Linked DNA regions of Homo sapiens. The protein of the gene in region 1 interacts with the protein of each later gene in a pairwise test. Each region holds a gene or a part of one and is shown in the gene's direction. Other genes may lie near its edges.

Evidence for each region.
Region 2: the proteins of TMEM14B (region 1) and GDAP1 interact in binary tests that used the Homo sapiens proteins (3 or more experiments, as listed by UniProt).
Region 3: the proteins of TMEM14B (region 1) and PTPMT1 interact in binary tests that used the Homo sapiens proteins (3 or more experiments, as listed by UniProt).

Annotation. Positions count from the first base shown.
Region 1 is NC_000006.12:10,743,939-10,750,829, forward strand, and holds the start of TMEM14B (transmembrane protein 14B), read left to right. Parts: upstream 1-3,866; 5' UTR 3,867-3,943; intron 3,944-5,263; coding exon of another isoform or gene 5,264-5,307; coding exon 5,308-5,330; intron 5,331-5,683; coding exon 5,684-5,760; intron 5,761-6,891. UniProt on the Homo sapiens protein: Primate-specific protein involved in cortical expansion and folding in the developing neocortex. May drive neural progenitor proliferation through nuclear translocation of IQGAP1, which in turn promotes G1/S cell cycle transitions.
Region 2 is NC_000008.11:74,353,378-74,360,402, forward strand, and holds part of GDAP1 (ganglioside-induced differentiation-associated protein 1), read left to right. Parts: intron 1-6,759; coding exon 6,760-6,933; intron 6,934-7,025. UniProt on the Homo sapiens protein: Regulates the mitochondrial network by promoting mitochondrial fission.
Region 3 is NC_000011.10:47,560,838-47,568,598, forward strand, and holds the start of PTPMT1 (phosphatidylglycerophosphatase and protein-tyrosine phosphatase 1), read left to right. Parts: upstream 1-4,761; 5' UTR 4,762-4,785; coding exon 4,786-4,959; coding exon of another isoform or gene 4,960-5,068; coding exon 5,069-5,149; intron 5,150-7,761. UniProt on the Homo sapiens protein: Lipid phosphatase which dephosphorylates phosphatidylglycerophosphate (PGP) to phosphatidylglycerol (PG).

The DNA of each region.
Region 1 (6,891 bases):
AGAGATTCAAGCATTTTAATTTGATCTGTGAGCTTTTCTGCTCACTGATCTCTGAGGTAGTATACCTGGAGGCCATCGCATTTCCCACATGATAACAATTCATATCAAAATACGGAATCCATTTGGGGAAGTCAGGTAGATTGCTTCCCTTTTCTTCCTGAGAATGGATAGTCTGCATATAGTCTTAGCCGTCCATGTGTTGAATGATCAACTTTTCTATTTATGTAGAACAGGTTTTAATCACACATACACTCCTTCCTGATACAATTCCCCATGTGTAAGCATCCATCTCCACCTTCCTTGCTCCATTGTTTATCCGACAGCCATGAAGTGAGTGCTCACCATGTGTGCCAGGTGCTATCCTAGATTCTGAGGGCTAAAAGGAAAAACACAACCCTTCTGAAAGACACAGCTTTGGTAAATAAATTAACATATTGAATGCAATGGCCTGGGGCAGTCATGGGCAGCTTGACTGATTAGTGAAATGTTGAGTTTTTGAATGACACAGGGCCCATGATGTCAACTCAATTTTTCATTTTTCTTTTCTTTTTTTTGGAAATGGAGTCTCCCTCTGTCACCCAGGCTGGAGTGCAGTAGAGTGATCTCGGCTTACTACAACCTCTGCCTCCTAGGTTCAAGCGATTCTTCCATCTCAGCCTCCTGAGTAGCTGGGATTACAGGCGTGCACCATCACACCCGGCTATTTTTTTTTTTTTGTATTGTTAGTAGAGACAGCGTTTCACCATGTTGGCCAGGCTAGTCTCGAACTCCTGACCTCAGGTGATCCATGTGCCTCAGCCTCCCAAAGTGATGGGATTACAGGCGTGAGCCACCGCTCACAGCCTATTTCAGATTTTAAAAGACTCTTCACTGCAAGAAACAAATGCAACTCTGGATGTCCTAAGCTTCAACAGAGGACGTGGGGGTAAGTACATGAGAAGGACACAGGTGTATCTGGCTGAGGCCAAGGCAGGAAGAACCAGAGCCAGGGTACAGCCAGGGCAAACTGTACATGTGGCCTTTGTTCTCCTGTCTGCCGACCACCCCTCTCATTTCTCACTCCACATCTACTTGTCCATTCAACACATGTTTACTGAGTACTGGTTATGGGCCAGGCACTGTGCTAAATGCTGCATAAATATCATCACTCCCATGAAACAAACATGCAAAAAAGGGGGAGGTAGGCTCTACGATGATTAAGCCAGTTACAGAGCAGGTTAGCAGGGAATTGTCATGGAAGGAAAGATGCTGTCGGGGGAAATGCAGATGAGTTGAAGTTTTAAATCAGGTGATTAGGGAAGGTCTCTCTGAGAAGTGACATTTGCGTAAAGACAGAAAGGAGGAGAGGGCGTGAACCAGGAGATTGTCTGGGGAGGCGTTCCAGGCAGATGAAGCAGCTGAGGGCAAGAAGGAAACACAAGTGAGGGGGAAAGAGAAGATGCTGATGTCAGGGAGGAGGATGTGTGGGGCTTTGCAAAGCACTGCCTGAGAAAAGGGGTGCCACCAGAGGGTTTTGGGGAGAGAAATGGCACAGTCAGACTTCTAACCCAAGTGCTCTGGTCACTGTGTTGAGAACAGACTAAGAGACAGAAAAAAGACTCTTCACTGCAAGAAACAAATGCAGAGTTAGGACAGCTCTGCCATTTGCTGTGTGACCTTGTAGTCTGTGCCTCAATTTCTTCCATGTGTAAAGCAGGAGATAATCATAGTCGTCACTGCACAGAGTTGGTATGAAGTGTAAGTTAGTTAACATATGTAAAGCGCTTCCAACAGTGGCAGATAATAAGAACTGCATATGCTTCTGCTAATATTTTTATGGCTCCAATGAATATGATCCAGAAGTAGATGGCAGATAGGTTAGGTTAAGAAAATAGGCGGTTTTTTTTTTATGATTTCATTTATTTCTTGGGGAAAGAGTTATTGACCTTGCTCTTCAAACAAACCTATAAAATACTCCCAAAGATGTAGAAATTGGTATTGTAGACACTTGATAGACATGAATTACCTGGGCAGACTGCAACTTGGGATTTGTTTTTGACGTTTTTGTTCAGGGACTTCTTAATTTGTAAAGTCAACACATTCAGGCTCCAAAAATGCTAAACTAATGCTTACATTGAAGCTCAATTCCCTTTCTTCATGAGCTCTTGTGTTGTGGGAGATGATCTCTACTGCTCTTGCTGTGTGAGTACACACCTGTGTGTGTACCTGTGTTTGTCTACCAGACACAATTCTTACTCAAAGCCTCTTTGTGGGAAAAACAAAACAAAACACCCAAACCTACTGATAGGCCTCAGTGACCAAAGACTAGAAACTTAACATTCCCTGACATAATTTTGATTACACCCTTTTGACACATTTGTGTTCCAGGGTTCCGATAATTCAGTGGGCCCCCAGTGAAGAGCTAAGCTATCTCCTAACAACGTTAATGCCAACTAGAAATATTCCCAAACACAAATCATTGATTGTTTTACTCTGGTACTAATTGAAATAGAGCAGAAACCAATTTCTTTAATTTATTTTATGACATGTTTTGATGGACTTTACCTACACAGAAGAGCTATGTGTTCTGGTTGAGGAACGACACTGCAAGAAGCAGCATATGGTAGAATTAAGGACGCAGGCTTTGACATTAGACCTTACTTTAAATAATAGCTCTACCAGTGACCAGGACTGTAGGTAATTTAATTCTCTGAGGTTCAGCCTCTTCAAGTATAAGGTGGGGAAGGGCTCGAGGATCATGGTGGATGATCCTAATTAAGGTTTGAGGCTTGCACCTGCATAGGGAAGAATGAGTCCCTAAAGCCATTCCCTGCTGGTTAAGACAAGTCTCATTAATTGTTCAGGAAAGTCTTCAATTAAATTGAAGGTCTGGCATACTGCAATTCCTGCAAGTTCTTAGTTATTATCAGCTCTGGCTGGTTAGAAGCAGCTATGATAAACACGGGCTTCAATTTAGCTATCTGGAAGGTAGGTGCTGCTGCAAGTGGAAAGTTTGTCTTTAAGAATATGCGCTGCAATTTGCTTTATTCACTGATGATTATATTGATCGGAGTTGTCTATGTTGATACTTGTAGGGGATGAAGGAGAGGGAGAAGTCAACGATGACAGCAAATTTTAGTGTAGAGCAACTGAGCGAATGGTGGTGCAGGAAACACAGAAGAGGAGCGGCTCGGAAGTGGGAATGGAGATAACATCATACTGTGGACATTCGGAATCCACAGAGCTGCGTGGAAATCAGATTTAACTTGCTCTCTCTCCCCATTTAAGATGCTTCTCAAGTAGCCTCACTCCCTAAAACAAACGGATATTTGGCATTGCGCCACATTATTCTGCAGCTGCCATATTTTCTTGCAGGTGGAAGGCAGGCCCTTCCTGGTGTAAACAAACAAGATCGGGCCAGAGTGACAATCCTCCCTGATGGCCCGCACCTGGTTTATACCCTCTATTAATGGGGTCCTTCAAAATCATCAGATGCCCTCCTCCCGCAGCGGTGGCCTCCACCTCTGGCCTGGCCCAGCTTACGTGGTCCAGCTTGTGCAAGATCCAATTCCAACTCCGGGTTTCCGGCTTTTGGCCACTCAGGATTGGACCTGGGACTGGAGCTGGTCGGCCCTGCAGGTGCTGGGCCTGGGGACTGAGGAAGCACAGAGATTCCCCGCCCGGTTCCCCGCCAACGGCGCTAGCCGCGATGCCCCGCCTCACTCCCCGCCCCCGGGATGCAGGGCGCGTGCTGGTAATCCGCGGCTCAAGCCCCGCCCCCACTGTCCCCATTCTCCGCTCACCTCTCTCCAAGGACACTGCGCACGCGCCACGACGTCCCGCCTTTCTCCCCGCCCTGCCGCGGCCCCGGGGCGCAGCGCGCACGCAATCGCGTTTCCGGAGAGACCTGGCTGCTGTGTCCCGCGGCTTGCGCTCCGTAGTGGACTCCGCGGGCCTTCGGCAGGTCGGTGCAGGTCTTTGGAGAGTATTGTTTTTATTTTCTGCCACTTTTAACTTTTAGGGATTATTTAGGAGTTTCACGGCCGTCTGCTTTTCGTCCCCCCGATTCAGCGGGCCTTTATGCCGTGTGGTCGGTGCTTTTCTCCTTGGGTATTTTCTGCTTGTCTTAAAAGAGGCTGTGGATGCTCGGAGCACCTGAGCTCCTGAGGCAAAGGCTTACCCTTGTAGCATAGTGTTGCCTCGTTTCCTGGTGGTTTTGTTGCTCCAGCTCTTTAAAAGCCTCCCTTACTCAGTGCCGCCTCGAGTTAAGAACTGTGGGCAAGATCCCAAGCCCGCTGCCCTTCCCCGTTTTATGGGAAATTAATTCTTTCTTTTTTTGGGGGGTGGGGAGGGGTTCTCGCTGTGTCGCCCAGCCTGGAGTGCAGTAGCCTGAATATGTCTTATTGCAGCCTCTGCCTCCTGGGCTCAAGCCATCCTCCCACCTCAGCCTCCCAAGTAGCTGGGATTACAGGTGCATGCCATCATGCCCGATTTGTGTGTGTGTGTGTGTGTTTTAATAGAATATGGGTTTCACCATGTTGACCAAGCTGTTCTCGAACTCCTAACCTCAGGTAATCCGCCTGCCTGGGCCTCCCAAAGTACTGGGATTACAGGCGTGAGCCACTTTGCCTGGCCTAATTCTTTAAACAGAATAAACGGCGTATGCATTGCTTTCCATCTTGTTAGGTTCACTGCATACAGAATACTTTTCTGTAAGAAAATAGGAGCTGTTTTTCCAAGGGTGCAATGTCACATGTGATTCTGACTTGAGTTTCCGTGTATTTTACCCTCCCCTTCTGCCCTCCTAACGAGAACTGTGAGTTGGATGCAGAAGTTTCTAAAAAAAAAAATTGAGTATTGAAATTGGCTGTTGCATCAGTGAAGAAAAGCAACATCCCTACCACCCCTCAAAAGAGACATTAAAGTAGTTGGATTAAGGGCACGGGAGTATTTGCTTTCCGATTTAGTGATAATGTGAGTGCTTAATGAAATGACTAACACATTCCCTGATTATAGAGCTGGTCAGTGGATCTTGCTGAGTTTCCTGTGGACCTATGTGAAATGATCGGCATCTGTTCAGGGTTTACTAGGTGCTAAGCACCTTTACATGTGACATCCATTGAATGCTCACAACACCCCCAGGAAATTGGTACCAGTGTTATCCTCATGGTACAGTGAAGGATACTGAGACTTAGGTTGCATAGCCTGCAGGTTGGACACACTTCTTTCTGACTGCTGGGGAGCTGTGCTTTTAACCACTGCTGATCCGGCTTGTTTTCCCCAGATGCAGGCCTGGGGTAGTCTCCTTTCTGGACTGAGAAGAGAAGAATGGAGAAGCCCCTCTTCCCATTGTGAGTAGACAGTAAATGGTTAGAGAGTAGCCAGGAGCTTCTGGAAACCAGAGTTCCTTTCCTCAGCTGAAAAGAACCCTAAGAGTAGACTGCCTGGGATGGCGTGCGGGATGGGAGGATCACTGGACCTGTGGGCCAGAAACTTGGGTTTGAGTCCCAGCTCTAGCTTTGCTTAGTTGTGTGACTCTCAGAAAGTCATCCAACCTCTGTGGTGCTTATTTTCAGTGATAGTACCTGTGGGCACATAGGACCTGTGGGGAATGATTACCTTTTAGCCCCATCCTATGACAATATGGTTTGTTTTTAAATCCAGGTTAGCACTGACTTCTCACTGACTTCTCTTGTGTTTTCAGAGTGCCTTTGCATTGGTTTGGCTTTGGCTACACAGCACTGGTTGTTTCTGGTGGGATCGTTGGCTATGTAAAAACAGGTAGGGTTTTGTTGTTACTTAGCCTCTTAACATCTTCACGTTGTTCCAGTGAAATGTGAGTGCCTGTGTCCCTGAGAAGCAATCTCGTTTGACTCAGCTTTGCTGTAGGTCCCCAAGCTGGAGTGCAGGCTTCCTTGTCAGTCTTGCAGCTCCTGCCCTTGCCTTTTGCTTATCTGGTGAAGCTGAGCCAGGCCTCTTGTGGAATTACTTATTTTTGCCTCTTTATCTAAAGGTAGGCAGGGGTGGTTGTAGTTTGTTATTATCATTGACTGCCATTCATCAGCCATGACCCCCAAGTGCCATCTCTGGGCTTAAGTAGGAGTCAACCTCTGGCCTACACAGACTGGTATTTTGAAGTTTCCTCATTAGGCCAGGCAGGGGTGTGTCAGTGGCTGTGCTTGTTTTTGCCCCCTAGTCCTTGCCTGCATTCCCACCCCAATCCCTGCACCAGACTTCTTATTCTCCTGATCTTCTATTTTTTTTTTAACTGCCTGGCCCTATTTCCTTCTGCTTTTGTGATTTGCTGGAGGTCCTGCCTGTACACAATTCCAGCCCTTCATGGTTGATGAGGCCTGATTAGAAAGTGTTGTACTTGAGCGAGTTAGAGAAAACGCCACACTTTGAGACGAATTAAGAGTCTGTTTATTTAGCTGGGGCCTAAAAGACGGCTAACACTCAAAGTTCTCTCGGCCTTGAAGAAGGGGCTAGATTTTCTTTTATACTTTGGTTTAGAATGGGGTGGGGGGGGGGTCTAGTTAAAACAATTTTACTGAAGTAAAGTAGGCAAAAAAGTTAAAAGGATAAATGGTTACAGGAAAGTAAACAGTTCCAGGTGCAGGGGCTTTAAGACTATTACAAGGTGATGGACGCGGGGCTTTGGGCATTATCAATCGGACGAATTCCTGGGAACTGCGGATATAGCTCGCCACAGTATCTTATCAGTTAATTGCATTCTTGGATGTGCTGGGAGTCAGCTTGCACAAGTTAAGTCCTTGAGGACGGGGCTGCCAGTGAAAGAGCCAAGATGGAGTCTGTCTGGCTCTCTTAGCTAAGGAAGAGTCAATTCAGGTGGAAACAAGGCTAGGTGATTAAAGGAAAGGGAGAGTCTAAAAACAGGGTTAGTAAAAACAA
Region 2 (7,025 bases), on another chromosome or scaffold:
AAGGGACCCAAAACTTATGGTAGATAGGACGACAGCAAGAGAACAATAGTTTATATAAATCAAGGCTAAGTTATATAAATCGAGGTCAAGAAGAAGTTTATCTCAGAGTACTGAAATTTTAAAAACAGCGTTATCACAATTATAATTAAGATGCTTTATCTTTAAGAACTCATGGAGAATGAAAGTCAGACAAGATAGACAAACATCCTATTGTCAAAGACGGGGAAAAGTGAATTCTACCAACCCTTGCTACTAATTGTATGTTCCATTCATCAGCAGCATTGGTGTCACCTGGGAGCTTGTTAGAACTGCAGAACCTTAGAGCTCTCTGCAGACCTATCAAATTAGAATCTTTGTTTTAACAAGAGCCCCATGTGATTCGTATGTACATTAAAGTTTGAGAATACTGCTATAAATTAGTGTTTAGTTAAGTAAGCACTGGTGTAAATTACTGTCTTTAAATCTGGTGGAAATTTAGAATAGATTGTGAATAGTTATTTAAATATGTTAAAATTTTTGTGTATCTCAGTGAAAGGAACCAATTTAAGTTTTACACTGCTGGAGAATGTCCCTAACACTTCTAAAAAACTGTCTATTATGTGCCAGGCATGGTTCTAGATATAGTATATCTTGATTTAAGTAGAACATTTGCGATTACGTTACATATACCCTTGTGGAATAAAGGAGCAAATATAGCTAGAAGATTGTAACGCACATTTGCAGATGAATAAACTACCATATTAAAGAATATTACTTTATAGATTTCTCATACCAGATTACCTCTTCAACTATAGACTCTCATTTTACTTATAATTGTTTTTATACTTTATTTTAAATGTTTGAATTGTACACCACTGTAAGTACCATGAGGTTGGGAATAGTGTATCTTATGAAAAATTATCCCCAATGCCTTATACAGTGAATGTTTCTTAATAGGTGCTTAATAAATATTTTGAATGATTAAAATGAATAAATTATTGAAACAGATGTTAGCCTGTACAGGGATCCCTTGTAATGTTCTTGTAGGCTTCTTTTTTGACTTGAGCCTAACAAATCAATGATTTGAATAGACATGGAAGAAATACGATTACATTTGTGAATGACAGAAAAGGTAAATAGTCAAAGTGATGACTAGCTTATAAAATATTTCTTATGGAAATACAACAAAATGGAAAAATAAGATAAAGTTTAACAAGGCTAAATGTAAAATGGCTATGAGGAAAATAGGCATGAGACTTTTGTTTTAAAAAACCAGCTGCATTCCAAAAGAATGGGGAACCTGGTTAATAGATAGTAAGTTACCAATGTTAAAACAAATGGCTAGTGTGATTTCAGGTTCTTTGAAAACTGTAAATTTTGTTGAGAACAGGGTGAGTTGTAACCCTCTGCATTCTGAGCTGTTTGGAATAGTTGACATTTTGTCCAATTATGGATGTAACTTTGAGGAATGTTGATGAGATAGAATAAGTGGATGGATTTCATGAGGTGTGCAGTCGCCCATGGTCATGACAGGAGACTGTAAGTGTAGCCATTCCTCTAAAGAACAGAATGTAGTGAACCAGTATGTCCTTCACTGTTATTTGCTGTCCCTTGTTATCGATCCAGTGGGGATTATGCGAAAAACGATGACTTGCTGATCTAGAAACATTTTTCAACTTTTTTGTTTACATTTACATATTTCTATCCTTGTACTTTCGGGATAGTTCATTAAATAATTGGTAGTTTGGTAGCTGAGGTCACCCTTTTCAAGTCATAGCCTGAAATAGTGAATATCTGTTGGATAATGGCTGTATTTGATTTTTTTTTGGAAAGCAGTCATACAGAAGAATGGTATAGACATGAATGATGCTCCTGACTGCCAAACTAAGAGCTGGCCGAGAGCTATCTCTTCATTTATTCTTTAAGTAACCATTTATTGGGTATTAATTTGGTATAGGGTCCTGGGATACTTCAGAGATGTTTTAAAGATCCGAAATCATTAGCAGCTTGCTAGTCTTCAAAGATAATTTCTTTCTATAAGTTTGCTGATAATTCCAAATCTGTCCTTAACATATATACTTGCTATTACTGTACAGTTTTATAGACTCTTTCATGTACATGATACCTCTTTAACTCTGAGCATGTGGTGAGGAATAGTTATTTTACAGCAAGCAATTGATTAAGCTAGATAAGGTATGAGAGTAAGCAAACTAGGTAAACTGAGAAAGAATGGATGTGACAAGGTGAATGTACACACAAATGTGGATTTTTCAATCTATCTATTGTACTCATAACCTCTTTAAATAAAATTTAACTTGGCTACTAATCAAAATTATATGGAATAACTATAAAATACTAGAACATATGTATTACTACCAAATAACTCTGGTAACCTGGAATCAAGAATAATGGATTTTTGTGATTTAATGTAACAGTTCTCTGAACATCACGTTCATGTCTTATGTCTAGATATATAATTTATTCTTAGGAAATAGAATTTAGTTTGGAAATAAACTATTCTAGTATGATATTAAAATCACGTAAATCTTATTAGGATATCTAAATTTATAGATACAATGTTATTTATAAAATACATTTAAATGTTACATTTGAATTTCATCAAATGTAACATTTAAAAAAGAACGTTAATTCTGATGTCACTGTTATATTAAAAATAGTTATTTAAGGAATTACCAATTAATATTTATATTTGTGTTCATCAAGAAAAGGCTCTTGTATATAGTTGAATATAGGCCTTTTAGCACATATACTGAAATTGCAGATTAGCACAAAATGTGGAGAAAATATACCATATGGCATGGAAAAGAATATCAGTCTTTGATTATTGTGTCAGTAAAAGTTGCTTTAAAAAGTAACTTTTCTTCTCTTTGTGATTTGTCCAGTTTTAGCAGACAGGTTGGGGGTATTAAAATTCAGAGGCCCTCTTTCTATATAATATGTATCTAACAATTGGAACAAACTGTCTGATAAAGGAATTTTTGCTTCCATCATTAAAAATGTTTCTGTTAAAAGTCTTAACTGTAATACCAGTTAAAAGTAGTTAAACATTTAATGTATAGTGCATAAAATTTATTGACAATAATGCTATAAATTTGTCTCAAAATCCTGGATGCATACAGTGAACTGATATAATTTGACACCGGGTCTTTTTGTTTTTTTTCTTATCTGTATTTAGATTTGCTCTTTCTAGTTCAAGAGTTATGACAGCACTGAATTGTAATCAATCAGTTTGCTACCATATCTTTTGCCTCAGGTCATAACTTAATTGTTTAATATTATTTAGTGTGTGTGTGTGTGTGTGTGTGTGTGTGTGTTTGTGTGTGTGTATATATATATATATTTTTTTTTTTTTTTTTGAGACGGAGTCTCGCTCTGTCACCAGGCTGGAGTGCAGTGGCGCAATCTCGGCTCCCTGCAACCTCCACCTCCTGGGTTCAAGCGATTCCCCTGCCTCAGCCTCCCGAGTAGCTGGGACTATAGGCGCGCACCACCACGCCCGGCTAATTTTTTGTATTTTAGTAGAGACGGGGTTTCACCATGTTGGCCGGGATGGTCTCTCGATCTCCTGACCTCGTGATCTGCCTGCCTTGGCCTCCCAAAGTGCTGGGATTACAGGCATGAGCCACCGTGCCCAGCCTATTATTGAATTTTTTAAAAATAGCCTAGTGTGTGACTAGTTGAAGGGTACAATATTATTCAGCTGTATTATGCATATTATATACTGATGCAATCACTATACAGTCTAAGTAAAATAAACAGCAAAGGGCTAGAGTGAGGAATGAAATCTAATCTGTTTCCATTGAGCTAGTAGTAAGGGAGACTTGAAAGTTGTACAAGTAGACCTAGGGGAGTCTTTCTTGAAAACAAGGCATAATAATGCCTCCTTTATCTGCCTTTACTAGGAAAGATGGGTAACCAGAGTAGTGAATTTTGTAAAATAATGAAAACTTATGCCTTTAAGCCCCTAATTTCTTTTTATGTTTTACTCTTGGGAAAACCAAATGTAATTTAAAAAAATGGCTCAGAGCCATTGTTATTTTACTCAGCATTACAGGGACTTGAGAATGTAGAGGCCCATTTGTCTCCATTACATGGCTGCAGAATGCTTTTATTGTTTCTTTCTGATTTTATTTTTTGCTTCTTTTGGTTTCCTCTGCTGTTTATCAAATCTTTCTGCTTTATGTCTATCTGCTGGTTTATAATTTGCTGCCTAAATTTATGTGTAATATAAAACTTTTCCCCTACTCAGTTCTTCCGGCAAGTCGGATCTTGTGCCAACTTATTTGTTCTTCTAGCTTAATACCAAGCCTCATTTCCACTGTTGCAATCCCACTCCCCAATGCTGGGACCTCCTCTCATTGCCTGCTTCTTAAAACTCCCTAATTCTCTGTCCTGCCCCGCTATGCCTTATGTTGCTTTCCCACTCCTGATTGAGGTACATTACTGAGAAAAAAATTCTTGCTTTTGGTATTTTGATAAAGGTACTCTACGGAAGAACTGGAAAATAAAATAGGATGGGATTGAGAGGGAAGATCTCCTCTATAATTCAAAGGAAATTCCCAGTTTTCCTTTGAAAAACTCTTTTATCAGAAGCAGCAGATACTGTTGTGCTTCAGTGTGAGGATGGCAGCGCAGTGCCCCTGTGATACTGGAGAGGGCATGCTTGATGCGCACAAAGAAAGAGAGATGGGGAGATAACTTGGGTTCAGTGGGTATCTCATGCTCTGACAGAGTGCTTCAGGAAATGGTTAGACAGTAACGGCACACTGAGTAGAAGAAAATTATTTTCATGGATTTAAACATTTGTCCTCCTTGAAGAATTTGGGCTTGGCCTGATGGATCTTCCCCAGAAAGCAATTAGACATTGTTTTTCCTGCTCTCATTCACTTTCCTAGGAAGGAAATGGTATGCTCTTCTGGAGAGAAGCCCCAGGGCCCAGTACCAGAAAGCAGCCAGAGCCACTAGCCATTACTTGGACCTTTTGGGAAGCATTTGAAAATGTACTATTTAGGGTTATTAGCCTGAGGTTCTTGGACCCCTAAAGCATTAGTTCTTAAACTTTTTGGTCTCTATACCCCTTTGTCTTTGAGGATACCAGAGAGCATTTGTTTATGTGGATCATAGCTATCAATATTTACCATTTAGAAAGCAAAACTGAGAAAACTTAAAATATTAGCCTGGTTAAGCACAATCCCACTAGCTGTCAGAGTGATAGAGTCATGTTTCCTGTAGCCTCTGGAAACTTCTACTGTACACTTGAGAGAGAATAAGAGTGAAAAAGTAATTAACGTCTTAGTATTTCTATAAAAATATCTTTGTAGATCCCCCAAACATGTTTTAGGAAAACCCAGGGATCCTCAGACCATAGTGTGAGAACTGTTGCGCTTAGGGGTTTATGAATAGAATTCAGGAGATTTGAGATCTTGGATAGGGAATAATTGTATCTCTATTTAAAGGAATTATTTCCTTCCATTAGCAATGTAGGCACAATCCATGGCAATATCAGGAGTGCTTCTGGCTTTGATAACCAATAGAACTCACAGATATGTTCATGGTTAAGTTATTGCAGATATCTTAATATTTTGAAATTGTGATAGTTATTAGACCTGACATTTTTTAGGGACAGTTTGACAGCCAGAGATAGGAAGAGATTCTGAAGGGACATAGCCCTGACCTTTGGGTTGCATCCTTCACTTTTATTCTTTTTCGATAGTCTATGAAATGAAAATCCTTTGAAAATGTTATGATGGTATAATCAAAGAGAACATTACATTAGGAATCAGATGACTTTAGTTCTAGCTCTGCCTCTAATTAGCTGTGGGATCTTGGGAGAAATTTTCAGCCCTTGTATCTGAGTGTACATGTTAACTCCTGCAGCACTTCTCCAGCTCAAGTAATCTATATAATAATTGGAAATTTTGGAATGTATTCATTGTAATTTATTAAACACCTACTACATGTCAAACATTATACTAGGCACTGGGGATTTAACAGAGAGCAGTACATGGTCCCTGCCCTCAAGGACTCTACAGTTTGGATTTTAACTAGCAAATAAGGATGTATGTAGAACCCACTTTCCAGAGATAATTGTTAGAAATTCCTGGGGAAAGTGCACCTGCGATATTTGAGCAAAGGCCTTTCCTGTTCCATATAGATTGTCATTCACATTCACATGTGTCAGTAGGGTCACTCTTGATGTTGGTTGGCACCTAGAAAAGAGTAGCCCCTGATTATCTTTCCATAATGAGCCCTCATTCAATTAACCAAACTTTATTGAGGGCCTCAAGTGTGTGGAGAACTGTGCTAGACTCTGGATTGCAGGTTCCTTTCCCTGAAGACAGTCATGGGGAAAAAAGATGCAATGAATTACAGTGTGATAAGGGCTGTAACAGAGTGTGTGTAATGTGTTATGGATGTATAGAAGAAGGCACATGTGAGCCAGTCAGATGTTGGCAGTTGTAGGAGGTTAGGGAATGCTTCATGGAATAAATGGCATAAATAACTGGGCCTTGAGGGCTGAGTGCAGTTTGCAAGGTGAAGAAATGAGAGAATACCAATGTGATTATGGTTTGGGATCTTGTCTGGTGCATCAGGCCATTTCAAACTTTGAATGAATGTCTGAGGTGAGGAGACAGTGTTTTTTGAATATACAGATATGTTGAAAATGTTAATGATGAGTGGATAGTGTTTTTGTTTTGCTTTTGAGTGTAACAACTCATGTGTAACTTTTTCTTCAATATTTGTGTGTGTGTATTTTAGAAAGAACACCCAGGTTAATGCCTGATAAAGAAAGCATGTATTACCCACGGGTACAACATTACCGAGAGCTGCTTGACTCCTTGCCAATGGATGCCTATACACATGGCTGCATTTTACATCCTGAGTTAACTGTGGACTCCATGATCCCGGCTTATGCAACTACAAGGATTCGTAGTATGTAAACATTTTAAAGACCTGGAATTCTGTCTGACACTTTCTTTTAATTCATTTTGAGACCTAGCATGTCTCATGGTCACTAAAAGAAG
Region 3 (7,761 bases), on another chromosome or scaffold:
ACATTTAAAAGTTTATTCTGGCTGGGCGCAGTGGCTCACGCCTGTAAGCCCAGCACTTTGGGAGTCCGAGGCGGACAGATCACGAGGTCAGGAGATCGAGACCATCCTGGCTAATATGGTGAAACCCCGTCTCTACTAAAAATACAAAAAATTAGCCGGGCGTGGTGGTGGGCGCCTGTAGTCCCAGCTACTTGAGAGGCAGAGGCAGGAGAATGGCATGAGCCCGGGAGGCAGAGCTTGTATTGAGTGGAGATCATGCCACTGCACTCTAGCCTGGGCAACAGAGTGAGACTCTGTCTCAAAAAAAAAAAAAAAAAGTGTATTTCGCTGGGTGAGGTGGCTCAGGCCTGTAATCCCAGCATTTTGGGAGGCCGAGACAGGTGGATCACGAGGTCAGGAGATTGAGACCATCCTGGCTAACACGGAGAAACCCATCTCTACTAAAAATACAAAAAATAAGCCGGGTGTGGTAGCGGGCGCCTGTAGTCCCAGCTACTTGGGAGGCTGAGGCAGGAGAATGGCATGAACCCAGGAGGCGGAGCTTGCAGTGAGCCGAGATCGCACCACTGCACTCCAGCCTGGGCGACAGAACGAGACTCCGTCTCAAAAAAAAAAAAAAAAAAAAAAAGTTTATTCCACAAAGAGACACCACACCCACTAAAATGGCTATAATGAAAGACAGATAATAAGTGTTGGCAACCATGTGGCAACATTGGAACCCTCCATACTCTCCTGGTGGGGATGCAAAAAGGTGCAGTCCACTTTGGAAAACTGACAGTTCTTCAAAAGGTTAAACACTGTACTACCCTATGACCTAACAATTCCATGATTAGTCAAATATACAAGAGAAATGAAAACCTATGTCCGTAAGTTGTATGCAAATGTTCCCAGCAGCATTGTTCAAAATAGCCAAAAGTGGAAACAACTCAAATGTTCATAAACTGATAAATGGAGAAAAACATGTGGTCTGTCCATACATTGAAATATTATTTGGCAATAAAAAGAAGGACAGTCCTGATACTTGCTACAACATGGACGAACCTTGAAAACATTCTAAGCATAAGACAGGTATCAACACACAAGTGATATCTATTAAGAAAAAAAAAAAGCTGGGCGCAGTGGCTCACACCTGTAATCCCAGCACTTTGGGAGGCCGAGGCAGGCTGATCACCTGAGGTCGGGAGTTCGAGACCAGGCTAACCAACATGGAGAAACCCCGTCTCTACTAAAAATACAAAATTAGCCAGGAGTGGTGGTGCATACCTGTAATCCCAGATACTAGGGAGGCTGAGGCAGGAGAATTGCTTGAACCTGAGAGGCGGAGGTTGTGGTGAGCTGAGATTGTGCCATTGCACTCCAGCCTGGGTAACAAGAGCGAAACTCCATCTCAAAAAAAAAAAAAAAAAAGTTGGGTGGGGTGGCTCACACCTGTAATGCCAGCACTTAGAGAGGCTGAGGCAGGCAGATCGCTTGAGTCCAGGAGTTCGAGACCAACCTGGGCAATATGGTGAAAGCCTGTCTCTACCAAAAATACAAAAATTCGCCACCAGGTGTGGTGGTACGCACCTGTGGTCCCAGCTACTCAGGAGGCTGAGGTGGGAGAATTGCTTGAGCCCAGGAGGTAGAGGTTGCAGTGAGCTAAGATCACACCATTGCACTCCAGCCTGGGCAACAGGAGTGAAACTCTATCTCAAAAAAAAAAAAAAAAAAAAGCAGCCAGATACAAAGAACACATATTGTATGACTCCATTTATTTGAAATACCCTAGGCTGGATGCAGTGGTTCAGACCTGTAATCCCAGTACTTTGGGAGGCCAAATCAGGAGGATTGTTTGAGCCCAGGAGTTCCAGATCAGTTTTTTTTTGTTTTGTTTTGTTTTTTTTTTGATATGGAGTCTCACTCTGTCACCCAGGCTGAAGTGCAGTGGCGCGATCTTGGCTTATCACAAACTCCGCCTCCTGGGTTCAAGTGATTCTCCTGCCTCAGCCTCCCAAGTAGCTGGGATTACAGGCGCCCACTATTATACCTGGCTAATTTTTGTATTTTTTTAGTAGAGACGGGGTTTCACCATGTTGGCCAGGCTGGTCTCAAACTCCTGACCTCAGGTGATCTGCCTGCCTCTGCCTCCGCCTCCCAAAGTGCTGGGATTACAGGTGTGAGCCACTGTGCCCAGTCCCGAGATCAGTTTGGGCAACATAGTGAGACCCCATCGCTACAAATAATAAAAAATTAGCCAGGTATCGTGGCACACGTCTGTAGTCTCAACTCCTTGGGAGGCTGAGGTAGGAGGACTGCTTGCACCCAAAAGGTCGGGGCTACAGTGAGTCATGATCACGCTGCCACTGCACTCTAGCCTGGGTGACAGTGAGACCCTGTTTCCTAGAAAAAAAAAAAAGAAAAGTAAAAAGAAGAAATGCCCTCAACATGCTAAACATGTAAATCTATACAGTCAGAAAGCAGGTTAGTAGTGTTTGCCTAAGGCTGGAGGATGATTGGGAGAAAATGGTGAGTCTCTGCTAATTCATAAGGGGCTTATTTTGAGGGCAATGAAAATATTCTAAAATTAGGCTGGGTGCGGTGGCTCATGCCTGTAATCCCAGCACTTTGGGAGACCAAGGCGGGTGGAACACCTGAGGTCAGGAGTTCAAGAGCAGCCCGGCCAACATGGTGAAACCCCATCTCTATTAAAAACACACACAAAATTAGCCAGGCATGGTGGCGGGCACCTGTAGTTCTAGCTACTGGGGAGGATGAGGCAGGAGAACTGCTTGAACCCGGGAGGTGGAGGTTGCAGTGAGTGGAGATGGCGCCACTACACTTCAGCCTAGTCAATAGAAGGAGACTCCGTCTCAAAAACAAAATATAAAAAAAAGAAAATGAATCTTTTAAAACCACCAGATGGGCCGGGCATGGTGGCTTATGCCTGTAATCCCGGCACTTTGGAAGGCCGAGGGGGACGGATCTCCTCAGGTCAGGACTTTGAGACCAGTCTGGCCAACATGGTGAAACCCTGTCTCTACTAAAAATACAAAACTTAGCTGGGCGTGGTGGCAGCTACTCGGGAGGCTGAGGCAGGAGAATTGCTTGAACCTGGGAGGCAGAGGTTGCAGTGAGCTGAGATCACGCCATTGCACTCCAGCTTGGGTGACAAGAGTGAAACTCTATCTTAAAAACAAACAAACAAACAAAATCTCCACCAGATGCTTGGGCCGGGCGTGTGGCTCATGCCTGTAATCCCAACACTTTGGGAGGCTGAGGCTGGCAGATCACCATAGGTCAGGAGTTCAAGACTAGCCTGGCCAACATGGTGAAACCCCATCTCTACTAAAAATACAAAAAAAAAAAAAAAAAAAAAAAGAAAGCCGGGCGCGGTGGCTCATGCCTGTAATCCTGGCACTTTGGGAGGCCAGGGGGATGGATCACCTGAGGTCAGGAGTTTGAGACCAGCCTGGTCAACATGTTGAAGCCATCTCACTAAAAATACAAAACTTAGCTGGGCGTGGTGACATGTACCTGTAATCCCAGCTACTCGGGAGGCTGAGGCAGGAGAATTGCTTGAACCTGGGAGGCAGAGGTTGCAGTGTGCTGAGATCACGCCATTGCACTGCAGCTTGGGTGACAATAGTGAAACTCTGTCTCAAAAACAAAAAACAAAAAACAAAAACTCCACCAGATGCTTGGGCCGGGTGCAGTGGCTCATGCCTGTAATGCCAGCACTTTGGGAGGCTGAGGTGGGCGGATCACCTTAGGTTCGAGACCAGCCTGGCTGACAAGGTGAAACCTCGTCTCTACTAAAAACAAAAGTTAGCTGGGTGTGGTGGCATGCACCTGTAATCCCAGCTACTCAGGAGGCTGAGGCAGGAGAATCGTTTGAACCCGGGAGGCGGAGGTTGCAGTGAGCTGAGATCTTGCGACTGCCCTCTAGCCTGGGCAACAGAGTGAGACTCCGTCTCAAAACAAACAAACAAAAAGTAAATAGCTGGCATTACAACCATTCTTCTTACCTTTTTGTAGGTTGCAGGTTTTATATTTGAGCTCTTCATAATATTTTTCTTAAGGATATATTAATATAATGTATATTTTCCTATTTTTTCCTGCTATGTAAACACTGCTGTTTGGTCAGATGAAGGAGGGAGCCCTGCCCTAGGACAGGGGAGGGGAGGAGGAAGGCGACCTCAACCCAGGACCCCTGTTCACCCTGGGATCAGGCCCTCACCCAGGTAGCTCCTCTGTTTGAAAGCTCTAAGCCCTTCCACTGTCCTCTTCAGGGCTACCCCGCCACACAGCCTCTCCTTGTCTTGTCTTCCCTTTGGCGGGGTCACACCCGCACCTGGGTCACTGCCCCCTTCCTCTGGTCGAGGGTTGGGGGGAGTGTCCCCTCCTCCCTCGGCCGGAGTCACAGTTCCACACGCAGGGGTCCTTCCTGCCCCTCTCACCTGGGGTCACAACCCCCCTCCCTCGGAGGAGGGAGGTCACCGGCCACAGGCGGGGGCCTCAGTTTCCCACGCTACAGGGCTCACACGTGTCTGGCCTGCGACGCGCTCTCCCTTCGCCGGGGTCCCAGTTTCCCGCCCAGGAAACCTCGGTCCCTCCTCCGAGGCCGCCGGGCCCTCCTCCAGAGTCCCGCCAGTCCCCCAGAGTCCAGGCCAGTCCCCGCCGTCACCCGGTGCGAGCCCGCGAGAGGCCTAGTGCAGCTGGCAGCCCCGCCCCGGCACCCGCCTGCTCTTCTCGCGGGTCCGGACCGCGAGCGCGGGGGCCGACGGGTCGCCGCTGCGCCGGGCCGGGATGGCGGCCACCGCGCTGCTGGAGGCCGGCCTGGCGCGGGTGCTCTTCTACCCGACGCTGCTCTACACCCTGTTCCGCGGGAAGGTGCCGGGTCGGGCGCACCGGGACTGGTACCACCGCATCGACCCCACCGTGCTGCTGGGCGCGCTGCCGTTGCGGAGCTTGACGCGCCAGGTGAGCCGGGCCGGGGAGCCCGGGCCCCTGCCCCGTCCCCGCCGCTCCGTCCCTGTCGGGCCGCTGGGGTCTCCACCGTCTTTGCTGAGCCACCTCTTTGCCTCGGCAGCTGGTACAGGACGAGAACGTGCGCGGGGTGATCACCATGAACGAGGAGTACGAGACGAGGTTCCTGTGCAACTCTTCACAGGTGAGGGACCGGGCCGAGGGGCAGGCTCGGGGGCCCGCTCCCCCTCGCCCACCGCCCTGAGCCTGGGACGGCTAGAGAAGTGTGGGGGAGGTCACCATGCACCGGAGCCAGGTGTCTCAAGCTGCTTTGCCTCCGGTCTGTGCCTCTAAATGGCACCTGGAGGTAGGCTAGAAGCTGTGAAAGGCGTTTATTTAAAAGTTCAAGTTGGGCCGGGCGCGGGGACTCACGCCTGTAATCCCAGCACTTTGGGAGGCGGGAGGAGGAGGCGGGCAGATCACTTGAGCCCAGGAGTTCCTGACCAGCCTGGGCAACATGGCGAGGCCCCCGTCCCTACAAAAATACAAAAAGTAGCCGGGAGTGGTGGCGTGCGCCTGTACTCCCAGCTACTTGGGAGGCTAAGGCAGGAGAATCACTTTAGCCCGGGAGGTGGAGGTTGCAGTGAGCCGACATCTCGCCATTGCATTCCAGCCCAGCCTTGGGCGACAGGAGTGAAACAATGTCTCAAAAAAAAAAAAAAAAAAAGTGGAAGTTGACAAAGCCTGATTTCTCCTTTGTGAACAAATGTAATGTATTCTTATTTCGGTAACCAAAATCAGAAACTAAAATTGAAAGGCAACTTTCCCATGCCTTCCTGATTTCATTCATTCTTTCTATACTTTGAGCTCTGAGTATGGGTCAGCATTCCCAGTGTTAGGGATTCCAGATGAAGGCCCTGCCAACTGTAAGACGAAAAGCACCCCCTTAACACTCTCCCCTCCCCAGATTTTTCATAAAACTATCCATTGAAAACTGTAGAGTTCATTTGGCTCTGATTTGGGGGAATTTTTAGTCATATATTAGAAATCATGGTGGAACTCCAAAGTTCTCTCATAACAAAGTTTAGGCCTAAAACATAACTTTCATTAAATGTGACTGGCCTGTTTGTGGAATCTTCCACAATGGTTATTAGAAGATGTTATCTACAATCTGAGCTATTTGATTTTTTTTTAATGTTGCCCTATCTTTATAGCGTTTGGCATCTAATAGCACTAAACAATTATCTTTCTCATTTGTTTTACTGATATAGCATGATGAAGATACTATTATTTCAACCTGAGGATTTTTTTGAAACCTTGAAAATATTTGTGACTTGGCCAGGCGTGGTGGCTCTCACACCTGTAATCCCAGCACTTTGGGAGGCTGAGGTGGGTGGATCACCTGAGGTCAGGAGTTTGAGATCAGCCTGGCCAAAATGGTGAAACCCCGTCTGTACTAAAATCACACAAAAAAATTAGCCGGGCGTGGTGGCAGGCGCCTGTAATCCTAGCTACTTGGGAGGCTGAGGCAGGAGAATCGCTTGAACCCGGGAGGCAGAAGTTGCAGTGGGCCGAGATTGCACCACTGCACGCCAGCCTGGGCGACAGAGTGAGTCTCCGTCTCAAAAAAAAAAAAGAATTACTGATCTTCATTTAGAACCATAAAGTCTCTGATACTCATTATTAAGAGGTTAATAACAAGAGTAGCTGGAGCATATCTGAAGTCTTAAAGCATAAAGTTTGCCCAGTTGCCAGAGACCTTATTTCTATTTCTTTTCTTTTTTTTTTTTTTTTTTTGAGATGGAGTCTCACTCCCTTGCCCAGGCTGGAGTGCAATGGTGCAATCTCAGCTCACTGCAACCTCTGCCTCCCAGTTCAAGTGATTCTCCTGCCTCAGCCTCCCAAGTAGCTGGAATTACAGGTGCCTGCCAGCATGCCTGGCTAATTTTTGTATTTTTTATGGAGATAGGGTTTTGCCATGCTGGCCAAAGTCGTCTCGAACTCCTGACCTCAGGTGATCTGCCCACCTTGGCCTCTCAAAATCTGGGATTACAGGCGTGAGCCACCACACCTGGCCACCTATTTCTTCTAAGTGATAACATTGCACTAATGAAGGTCAGTGCATTGTTTTAATTTTATTTTTGTTTTTGTTTTTGAGACGGAGTCTTGCTCTGTCGCCTAGGCTGGAAGTGCAGTGGCACGATCTCGGCTCACTGCAAGCTCCGCCTCCTGGGTTCATGCCATTCTCCTGCCTCAGCCTCCCAAGTAGCTGGGACTACAGGCGCCTGCCACCATGCCCGGCTAATTTTTTTGTATTTTTAGTAGAGACGGGGTTTCACCGTGTTAGCCAGGATGGTCTAAATCTCCTGACCTCGTGATCCGCCCGCCTTGGCCTCCCAAAGTGCTGGGATTACAGGCATGAGCCACCATGCCCGGCCCATTGTTTTAATTTTAAAATGATAACCCTATTTTCTACCATATGTTCCCTCAAAAAACAGTGGTAAAAAAGAGACTTATGGACAGAGAAATAGAAAGCCTTGGCAAAATATTGTACCCCAAATCTGCAGCTGAATCACTACACAGGTGCCAAAATTATGCAAAAAAATTACACTGGCTGGGCCTGGTGGCTCATGCCTGTAATCCCAGCATTTTGGGAGGCTGAGACAGGAGGATGGCTTGAGGCTAGGAGATTGAGACCAGCCTGGGCAACATAGCGAGACCCCCATCTGCACACACACAAAAATAACAAAATTAGCCAGGCACAGTGGCATGCAGCTGTAGTCACAGCTACTTGGGAGGCTGAGGTGGGAGGACTGC